Homo sapiens: one gene and its partners. The protein of the gene in region 3 purifies or fractionates together with the protein of the main gene of each other region. This does not show direct contact. Each region holds a gene or a part of one and is shown on either strand. Other genes may lie near its edges. The genes, in order: ROCK1, ZNF3 and LONP1.

Region 1 (3,649 bases), on a different chromosome or scaffold from region 3:
TAGATTGTTTTTAAATTTATATGGGAATGCAACCAGGCGCGGTGGCTCATGCCTGTAATCCCAGCACTTTGGGAGGCCAAGGTGGGTGTGGATCACCTGAGGTCAGGAGTTCAAGACCAGGCTGGCCAACATGGTGAAACCCTGTCTCTACTAAAAATACAAAAATTAGCTGGGCATGGTGGTGGGCACCTGTAATCCCAGCTACTCGGGAGTCTGAGGCAGGAGGATCACTTGAACCTGGGAGGCGGAGGTTGCAGTGAGCCGAGATCGCGCCACTGCACTCCAGCCTGGGCAACAAGAGCGAAACTTCGTTTCAAAACAAAAATAAAAAATTATATGGAAATGCAAAAGGCCAAGAATAGCCAAGCCAATTGGGAGGGATTACAAAGTTGGACTTCTACTACAGATATAAAATCTTATTATAAAGTTACAGTAATTAAAAGTGTGATATTGGCAAGGACACAGAAATAACACCAATGGATTGTTCACCTGAATTACGATGCAGGAAAGAAGTATTTTCAATGAATACTGCAGTATCAACTGAATATCCATATGGGAGAAATACTGCTTGATCTCTACCTCACTCTGAATTCCAGATTGATTATAGAACTGTGAAAGTTAACTATGAATTACAAACTCAAGTAACTATGAGTTTGTCATTTAAGTTCTTTTACTTATTTTTTTTACTTTAAATGAAGGGTGAATGGGTTAATTTAAGCTGAAACCCCAAATGACAGGTCATGAGTGAACCTGTGAATAATGACAGTGGCTATGTTTTCTTTGTTGCCCAAAGCTGGAGTTCCTGATCTCAGAGAAGCTTACAGGTGTGGGTGCATGGGCTAACTCAATGCTGAACCTTCATTCCACACTCCTAGTGTGTCCTCCTGTAACAAATTAGAGAGAAAGCTAGAGGCTATATTTCTCAGACTTTCTTGCAGCTAGGGGTCTGGATGTGATTTAATTTTGGCCACGTAGATGCACCTAGAGAAGGCAGACGTGAGATGCAGGCTGTGCTAAATGCCAGCAAGCAGGGTCATGGAAGTGCCTTTTCTGAGGCAGTGTGCAGACATGAGGTTCTTAAGTGGCAAGAGGAATGGTACAAAACATCTAACTGGAGGTAGATTGTAGCAAGCCTGACAAGTGTTGCAGAGAACCAGCAGTGGTAGTGTGGATTCCTGATTATGGCACTATCTGGACCCTCTCAATATTGGTATACTTGGGAGTGAGTGGTTTCCTGAACTTAGAAGAGGAAGCAGCTCTCCTGGTTGACCCAGTTCTGTAATGTGGCATTGGGAGTGATTCCTCAAAGCTCTCTCAGTTCTCAACAATTCTAAGTTCAGATTAGTATGTCATTTGGAAAGTCTTCTCTTGCTTAAACTAATTAGAATTAACTCTGTTCTCTGCAACTGGACCTTAAAATATTAGGTAATGGTGATGAGTCTGAGAAGGTAGTAAGGACACCGTCAGGAACTGTGCTGAGATTTTATCCTGTTTGCATGCTGCCAGTCACAGTTTCATGGATCCTGACAAAAGAGATGAGACCCCTGGGTCAGAGTCAGATGACTTCATTCACAGCACAGCAAAAGCAGCATAAGTTTCACGTTCCATCAGTTCCCTTTGCCCTCCAAGCCCCATGTGGGCAATGCAGAGTGGCCCAGGTGGGTGCTGAGCACACAGTGGGTTTGCATCATAGGTGGGAGACGTTATCTTTATTATACTGGACAGTAAAAGAACCCGACATCCTCACAAGGGAGAACTCTATCTTCCAAGGCTGTTTACTACATAAATATCCTTGGAAAAGATAGTCAAAAGAAAGGTTGTCAGAGCCTCTGCTTCCCTGATGTGTAGAAATGCAAGAGACCCATGGAGAATTGTTTTCCAACACACTTTAGCCAGCTTTTCATGTGAACTATTCCCACTCTTGTTTTAGAGCCCAAGACCACGTTTTATCTTTTAAAAATACACTTTAATCTAACCATGGAATTTCACAAACATTTATATACAATCAGAGACTAATTTGAAGTATGTTTTCCATTCATTTCAGCCATGAGAAAACACATTGCAGTAAAAATTAAAGATACCCATCCATAAATTACTTTTATTTCTCATTAAATGAGCACAGAGTCATTAGTATATTAATAACAGATATGTTTATTATTACATATCCATCAGTGCGGCTTTCAATACCACTTGAAACATGCATATCATCCTAGAGACGATCGGTTTTCCAGTGCTTCTTATCTGATACACATTACTGCAAAGCCATTATAAATTACTGAGGAGGTATTTGGTTAAAAAAATAAACAATAAATCATACTGTCCATATGAATCAACTCTTGTTACTGGACAAGAGTTTAACAGTATTTATCTGGTAATTCCTATGTTAACTGGAAAACATCATGGATGTATTGCCATATTTCCTTTTTATGTTGGTGCAACCTTCTACATTTTTTGCAGTTTTATAAAGTCATTATTGTAGCAGGTAGTTTGATGCAAAGATTGTACTCAATTTATGAAAGTCCAACAAACCTCTAAATATTTTAAATTAAACCAATTATCAATGAAAAACTCACTGACACACATAATTTTTTGAAAATACATTTTTTGAAATTTCTATACTTACTCATGGCAGTAAAATAATTATCTCAAATTAAGGCACTAAAAGGACAATGCAACCCCCATTGAAAGTGTTCTAAGAATAATTTACATTTCAAACAGTGCATACATTTCTTATATGTTTGTTAACTTAATGTCTTTATCATTTAAAACCACAAAGAAATACATTATACAATTATAGAAATGATGTACCCCACAAAATGCTTTTAAACTTGGTTCTTTTGTACAGTTAGTTTCCTAATGTCTCTAGTAGTAAAATAACTCAATATGGCTTGGCAAAAATGCATAGATTAAATGTAACTTTTTTTTGTCCTCTCCCATTCCCCAAACTTGCTGAAACATATACAGTATTTTGTAAAGCATAATGAAAGATATTTAATTTCTCCATCAAGTCCAACATGGGCAATCAACAGTAAGGCTTTTAAATTCTACAGTGAGGGCACTGAAGTTCAAGTGATATCACTGCTTTCTTAAAATAGTTTTGTATAGTCTTGCAAGAGCACAAAAACTTAAGTCATTAAAAAAAAAACAAAACTTCAGTTTGTCTCATTTTGAGATATTTTCTTTACTCCTTCCATGAGCTGATCTTGATAGTGATGGCTGTTCCACTTGAAAGTGAAAGTCCCTTCCTCTTACTCATATGAGGAAAACTCTGTTCTATCACGACTGACAGGCATTTTCTTATAAATCCAAAAAGGCAGCACCTTTTAAAAAAAATATATCTACCTAAGCTTTCCCCCAACTGTACTTGCATTACATAGTAATAATTAATCTAATCTACCTGTAGGCAAACCCGCAATAAAAAAAACCCTCAGTGTGTTGTGCCAAAGCAAGGACAGAAAAACAGCAATCTTAACCCTGAAGCCTGTGATATTTGTGTCAAAGAAACAGCCTGTCTGCTCTGCATGGTTAAAGAAGCCTGGTTTATCAGGTAGCATCCCACACGATTCCACAGGGCACTCAGTCACATGGTTAACTGTTGAGGGAGGGGGAAAAAACTAATTTAAGAAATGCACTCAGTTTAAAAATACAA
Region 2 (3,649 bases), on a different chromosome or scaffold from region 3:
TTTTGCATTCCCGATTTTTTTACTCCTTGCAGTTGTGAGTGGCAATAGAGTTAGCCCTCAGCAAACATTTGCTATGTGAGCAAATGAGTAAAGAGATAATGAGAGGTAGATCAAATCCAGGGTTGGTTGGTTTGTTTTGTTTTGTTTTGTTTTGTTTGAGACAGAGTCTCACTGTTGCCCAGGCTGGAGTACAATGGTGCGATCTTGGGTCACTGCCACCTCTGCCTCCCGGGTTCAAGCGATTCTCCTGCCTCAGCCTCCCAAGTAGCTGGGATTACAGGCGCATGTAACACCATGCCCAGCTAATTTTTGTATTTTTTCTTTTCTTTTTCTTTTTTTTTTTTTTTGAGGCAGAGTCTCTGTCTATTGCCCAGACTGGAGTGCAGTGGCGTGATCTCGGCTCACTGCAACCTCCACCTCCTGGGATCAAGTGATTCTCCTGCTTCAGCTTCCTGAGTAGCTGGGATTACAGGCACACACCACCATGCCCAGCTAATTTTTTGTATTTTTAGTAGAGATGGGGTTTCATCATCCTGGCCAGGCTGGTCTCGAACTCCTGACCTCGTGATTTGCCTGCCTCAGCCTCCCAAAGTGCTGGGATTACAGGCATGAGCCACCGTGCCCAGCCTGGGAGTAGTCTTTTTATGCCAGTGAATGTATATACCCGCTCCTGCATTTTGTTATAAATATTACTCAAAGTGATGGGGGCAGCCAAAGGCGGGATATTGTTGAGGAACTTGGGCCCTTTTTGTGGTCCTTGTGATAGTCTCATTTCAGGGAGTATATTTACCAGGATCTAAAAGACTAGTCTGAGGCTGGGCATGGTGGCTCACACCTGTAATCCTAGCACTTGGGGAGGCTGGGGTGGGCGGATCACCTGAGATCAGGAGTTTGAGACCAGCCTGGCTGACATGGTGAAATCCCACCTCTACTAAAAATACAAAAATTAGCCAGGCATGGTGGTGCGTGCCTGTAATCCCAGCTACTTGGGAGGCTAAGGCAGGAGAATCGCTTGAACCCGGGAGGCAGAGGTGGCAGTGAGATGAGATTGCGCCATTGCACTCCAGCCTGGGTGACAAGAGTGAAATTCCGTCTTAAAAAAAATAAAGAAAATTTAAAAATACCGGGCGCGGTGGCTCACGCCTGTAATCCCAGCTCTCAGGGAGGCAACAGGTGGGAGGATAGCTTGAGCCCAGGAGTTCCAGACCTGCCTGGGCAATATAGCGAGACCCTGTTCTCCACAAAAAGGAAAAAAAAAATTAAAAAATAAAAGAAAATAAAAGACTAGTCCCAGTTGCCACATTTCTTCTCACTGTTCCTGGGTACTCACTGAAATACTAGCTCCCATCTTTCTGTATTCAGGAGGTTTTTTTGAATTATCTTTGAACCTTGAACTTTTGCTTCTGCAGTGCTTCCTCATTCTCTTTTAAAACCCGCTTCCCGCTGAGTCTGCACCCAGGAGACCAGAGAGCACCTTGCCCTTCCATGGAAACTCAGGCTGATCTCGTATCTCAGGAACCTCAGGCCCTGCTTGACAGTGGTGAGGAATAAGGACTCATTCATTCTTTTACTCAGTCATTCTGCAATCATCCATTGAAATCGCTCACTTACCAGGTACTAGGCTAACTACTAGAATCCAGATGTGAATAAGACACACTCTTCGCCATTCAGTAACTCACAGCCTAGTGGGGAAGCTGACCGAACAGTAATCAATGACAGCTTGATAGGTTTGATAATTGAGGCAGATTGTTTTGTTTTGTTTTGTTTTTTTTGAGATGGAGTCTTGCTCTGTTGCTCAGGCTAGAGTGCAGTGGCACAATCTCGGCTCACTGCAACCTCCGCCTCCTGGGTTCAAGTGATTCTCCTGCCTCAGCCTCCCATGTAGCTGGGACTGCAGGCGCCCGTCACCATGCCCGGCTAATTTTTGTAGAGACGGGGTTTTGCCATGTTGGTCAGGCTGGTCTTAAACTCCTGACCTCAGTGCCCACCTTGGCCTCCCAAAGTGTTGAAATTACAGGCATGACCCACCGCGCCTGGCCACTGAGGCAGTTTTGAGGGGTTGTGAGTACCTCACGCGAGATTAATGAAACCGTGTCAATCATTCCATTTCTCGGGCATTCTATGCAGCCGACTTCATAGGCATAGTTTGTGCTTTTTAGGAGCATGCTTTTAGAGGAGGCGCTTCGGAATCATTTTATGGGTCATAGACAAAAAGACAGAGTGAATAGGAAGCCACTAAAGTATACTTTGCGGCCGAGCGCGGTGGCTCACTTCTGTAATCCCAGCACTTAGGGAGGCTGAGGCGGGCAGATCACAAGGTCAGGAAATTGAGACCATCTTGGCCAACACAGTGAAACCGCATCTCTACTAAAAATACAAAAAATTAGCCGGGCATGGTGGCACGCACCTGTAGTCCCAGCTCCTCCAGAGGCTGAGGCAGGAGAATTGCTTGAACCCGGGAGGTGGAGGTTGCAGTGAGCCGAGATCACGCCACTGCACTCCAGCCTGGGTGACAGAGTGAGACGCCACCTCAAAAAGAAAAAAAAAAAAGAATTGCAGAAAAAGGTAAGAGATTCAACACAGAAACAGGGAACATTTTTAGTGTACAGATTTGATCTGGGGTGGAGAGAAAGGAGCTGTGGGCATTGTGTTTCCAGTCAGGGCTGGGGTGAAGCTGCTGGTTTTTCTCTGGTCTAAGAACTTCATGCTGGGTGCAGTGGCACACGACTGTAATCCCAGCTATTTGGGAGGCTGAGGCAGGAGGATCACTTGAGCCCAGGAGTTTGAGACCAGCCTGGGCAACATAGCAAAACCCACCTCAAAAAAAAAAAAAATAGAACTTCATGCAAGAGCGGGATCATATGTTTCTGGCCAAGCTTGGGTGAATGGACAAGAATGCAGTAATCACTAAGATAGGACTGGGCGGTTTCATTGAGAGAAGAGTGACTGGAGAGAAGAGGGGACCTGGGACAGACTGGAGACTAAGAATGACCAGGCCTGTGGCCATCTGCTCAGGCAGGATGGACTCGCTCTGAGTTTGCCTTTGTTGGACACACTGTAGCTAGCTGCAGAGGAAGCAAACTTAGAAATGTGAGAGAGAGGGTCCTGTGTTGTCCCAGGACCCCGGGAGCTTTCTGTGGGTTGGGAAGTCAGCAGGTTGGGAGGTCACAGAGCAGATGGACTCATTCCTGGGCCCTTTTATTGCCCTTCAGCTCTTCCTTCAAAAGTTCCTGCCTTTTCCGACAAGGACAGCCTGGGGGATGAGATGTTGGCGGCTGCGCTCCTAAAGGCCAAGTCCCAGGTGAGCTGTGGTTCCGTTTATCCTTTTCCTTTCCATTTTCTGTGCAATGACATCCCATTCAGAGCTTTAAACCCTGATCTCCTCCATCAGGCCCATGGTTCTGTCCTGCTGAATCATGGACCCTCACCTTCTATCTTGGACTCCTGTCTCTCTTCCTCCACCCTGTCCTCCCTTCCTCCCTTCCCAAATGTGCATTTTTCACCCCATCCTCAGTGATTTTTTTGGTGCCGCCATTCACATTCCTCACCCTGAAATTGCATGCCAGCACGTGTTGTTTCAGGAGCTGGTAACCTTTGAGGATGTAGCTGTGTACTTCATCCGGAAGGAGTGGAAGCGTTTGGAACCTGC
Region 3 (3,649 bases):
GATCAATAAAAAAAAAAAAAAAAATTAGCTGGGCGTGGCAGCGGACACCTGTAGTTCCAGCTACTCGGGAGGCTGAGGCAGGAGAATGGCATGAACCCGAGAGGCGGAGCTTGCAGTGAGCCGAGATCGTGCCACTGCACTCCAGCCTGGGCAACAGAGTGAGACTCCATCTCAAAAAAAAAAAAAAAAAAAAATTTACAAACTGCCCTGTCCAAAGCACCCAGTGCAGGAAGGAGGAGATGGCCGGAGGTCCACTGCTGACTCATCAGGAGAGCCAAGACGGCACTGGCTTCTGCCCAGGGCTGAGTGAGCAGAACCACAGAGGGGACGAGGCTTAGAAAATGGGACAAGGCCTGACCCAGGGCAGGTGGGGAAATGGAGGCCAGGTCCCCTGCCGGGAGAGTGACGCTGAAGGTTGGGAGGGCAACTCCATATTGGTCCCCAAGTTGGGAGCCGTGCAGCAGTGAGCAGCGGCCACTATGGGCCAGGAGCAAGTCAGTGAGGGCTGCAAGAGCACACGGCAGGATTGGGGAAGAGGATGAAGAGGAGGACGGCTTCCGAGGAAGGGCCAGGCGGCCCCACGAGCAGACACCGTCAGGGCGCACTGCCACCCAACGGGCATACGAGACGCACCGGGACAGGCCAGCTGGGCCACACGGATGCTGGAGTTTAGAGACACATGAAGTCACTGTGGAAGTGACACAGGCAGTGACACTTTGCGGAGAGCATTCTGGGTGGGAGAGGTAGCTGGCAGCCTGCTGCAGGCATCTTGGTGACACGCAGGTACTGAGGGCTTGTCCCCCGTGACTTCCCAGGACCTGAGGACAGAACCCGCCTTACAGACCCCCTCAGCTCCTGGGGGAAGGAGCTATCTGCTTCTGCAGGACAAGGCCCGGTCTGAGCAGGTACTTCCACCAGCCCAAGGGCAGCTGAGGCACTCGCTGGGAGACAGAAGAACCCCGAAAACATCTACGTTCTCCCCCCACAGGAGGCGGCGGCACAGGCCTCTCACATGGCAGCAGGGAACTGCAGATGGGGCTGAGTGAAGGTCCCCGAGACAGGAGAGCATTCTGGGTGACCCAGGGGGCCCAGGTTCCTCACCAGGTCCTCACGACAGGCGGTGGGAGGTGAGAGACTGACTGGAAGAGGCTGCGCTGTGGCTGTGAAGGAGGAAGGGGCCCCGAGCCGAGGGATGCGGGCGCCTCCAGATACTGGGAAAGGCAGGAAACGGATTCTCCTCTGGAGCCTCTGGGAGGGACGGGCCCGGCCCACAGCGGGATCTCAGGGCTCGGCATTGTGTAAGGCACTAAGTTGTGGCACCGTCGGAGCAGCCATGGGAGCTCACAGGCCACTCACCGAAATCGGGGCGTGCTGGGAGGGGAAGCCACAGCCTTCGCGCGCAACCAGTGCCTCTCAGGGCCCTGGGGGAGAGACTCCGGCGACCGTGACATTCAAATCTGAGGCGGGGTCCTGGGCCAGCAGCCAGGAAAGAAACTCATGCCTTCCCTCTAAGCGCTGTCCTACGGCCTGCCCAGCCCTGCCCCGGGGACTTCTGCCTAGAAGCTGCCCTGGCGTGACAACTGGTTCCTGGGCTGAAAACAGAGCATGCTGCATGGGAAGTGGCCAGGTGGGTTCTGTCCTGGCTGGACATGGGCATGGCTGAAAGGATCTCAGAGGTACCTGAGGCCCTCAAACCTGGGGCGGCCACCCTGACTCATGGCATGCTCAGGACAGTGGCCCCCGGGCAAGGCCAGTGCTGCGGGAAGGCATGGTCACTTCCTGGCTGACTCTCGAAGGGGCAACAGAAGCCAGGGGTAGCCTTGCAAAGACAGCCATGGGGACTCCTGGTCCTGGCGAGAAGGCCTGGCTTAGGCCAGGCGTGGTGGCTCATGCCTGTAATCCCAGCACTTTGGGAGGGCAAGGTGGGCGGATCCCTTGAGGTCAGGAGTTTGAGACCAACCTGGCCAACATGGCAAAACCCCATCTCTACTAAAAATACTAAAAATTAGCTGGGTGTGGTGGCACATGCCTGTAATCCCAGCTACTCAGGAAGTTGAGGCAGTAGAATCGTTTCAACCTGGGAGGTGGAGGTTGCAGTGAACCAACATTGCACCACTGTACTCCAGCCTGGACAACAGAGCAAGACTCTGTCTTAAAAAAAAAAAAAAGCCAGGCATGGTGGCTCGCGCCTGTAATCCTAGCACTTTGGCAGGTCAAGGCAGCCGGATCATTTGAGGTCAGGAGTTCGAGACCAGCCTGAACAACATGGTGAAACCCCATGTCTCCTAAAAATACAAAAAATTAACCAGGCGTGGTGGTGCATGCCTATAGTCCCAGATACTTGGGGGACTGAAGCAGGAGAATTGCTTGAACCCGCAAAGCGGAAGTTGCAGTGAGCCAAGATTGTGCCACTGCACTCCAGTCTGGACAACTGAGCGAGACTCCATTTCAAAAAAAAAAAAAAAAAAAAGCAGCCCTGGCTTAGAGCCAGGCGTCCCTGGGCTCAAATCCGTGGCACCACCTGCCAATTCACAGGCCCTGGCCACCAGCTCAACAGCCCCGAGCCTCGATTTCCTTGTAGAATGGAGATGGTGATGATGTGTCCTGCCCAGAACAGGGCTGATACTCGCTGGATGCCTCCCAGCCCGCACCTGCCACACCAAGAAGGTGCCACGGGGCTCCCCGCTGGGTCCCCTGGCCTGCCTAAGATGGGGGCTGAGGAGGGGTCACCTGAGGGCTGGGCCGCCCCGGGCCTGGCACTCACTTGAACTCCGAGGAGTGGTTGTCCAGCAGGCCCAGCTTGCTCAGCTCCTCGTCCACAACATCCATGACGTGCTTGGGGACCACGAGCTCCTTCAGGCGCTCCCGGAACTTCTCCTCGATGGCATCCTTGTCGTCCTTCTCCAGGCCCAGCTCCTTCTTGATGATCTTTAGCTGCTCCTGCAGCAGGTACTTACGGTGGGTCTGCTTGATCTTCTCCTCCACCTGTGGGGTGAGGTGCTGCCATCAGGCCCTGGCTCCGGGAAGCTGGGTGGGTGGGTGCGTCCCCAGACGAAGGGGGACCCTCTGCTCCCCCAGGACTCAGAGAGAAAAGAAACGAAACCCAGAGCACGAAGCCTTTGGTTCCTTCCATCTTCTTTTGTTTTTGAGACAGGGTCTACCTGTGTTACCCAGGCTGGAGTGCAAAGGCACCATCATAGCTCACCGTAGCCTCCACCTCCTGGGCTCAAGCGATCCTCCTGCCTTAGCCTCCTGAGTAACTGGGACCACAGGCACCTGCCACACCTGGCTCTAATTTTAAAATTTTTTGTAGAGATGGGGCCAGGCGCGGTGGCTCACGCCTGTAATCCTAGCACTTTGGGAGGCTGAAGCGGGCGGATCACTTGAGGCCAGGAGTTCAAGACCAGCCTGGCCAACATGGTGAAACCCTGTCTCTACTAAAATACAAAAATTAGCCGGTGTGGTATTGCACGCCTGTAATCCCAGCTACTCGGGAGGCTGAGGTGGGAGGATCACTTGAGCCCTGGAGGTGGAGGCTGTAGTGAGCTGAGATTGCGCCATTGCACTCCAGCCTAGGTGGCCGACTGAGACCCTGTCTTAAAGTAAAAAATTCTGAAAAATGCTACGACCGTGAGGTGACCGGCCATCA

Evidence for each region.
Region 1: the proteins of LONP1 (region 3) and ROCK1 fractionate together in Homo sapiens (co-fractionation; one large-scale study listed by BioGRID). This does not show direct contact.
Region 2: the proteins of LONP1 (region 3) and ZNF3 purify together in Homo sapiens (co-immunoprecipitation; one large-scale study listed by IntAct). This does not show direct contact.

Annotation. Positions count from the first base shown.
Region 1 is NC_000018.10:20,947,796-20,951,444, forward strand, and holds part of ROCK1 (rho-associated protein kinase 1), read right to left. Parts: intron 3,593-3,649; coding exon 3,589-3,592; 3' UTR 1-3,588. UniProt on the Homo sapiens protein: Protein kinase which is a key regulator of the actin cytoskeleton and cell polarity.
Region 2 is NC_000007.14:100,075,194-100,078,842, reverse strand, and holds part of ZNF3 (zinc finger protein 3), read left to right. Parts: intron 1-1,409; 5' UTR 1,410-1,485; coding exon 1,486-1,540; exon of another isoform or gene 1,541-1,614; intron 1,615-1,620; exon of another isoform or gene 1,621-2,565; intron 2,566-3,212; coding exon 3,213-3,301; exon of another isoform or gene 3,302-3,416; coding exon of another isoform or gene 3,417-3,581; coding exon 3,582-3,649. UniProt on the Homo sapiens protein: Involved in cell differentiation and/or proliferation.
Region 3 is NC_000019.10:5,703,008-5,706,656, forward strand, and holds part of LONP1 (lon protease homolog, mitochondrial isoform 1 precursor), read right to left. Parts: intron 2,986-3,649; coding exon 2,765-2,985; intron 1,212-2,764; coding exon of another isoform or gene 1,109-1,211; exon of another isoform or gene 724-1,108; intron 1-723. UniProt on the Homo sapiens protein: ATP-dependent serine protease that mediates the selective degradation of misfolded, unassembled or oxidatively damaged polypeptides as well as certain short-lived regulatory proteins in the mitochondrial matrix.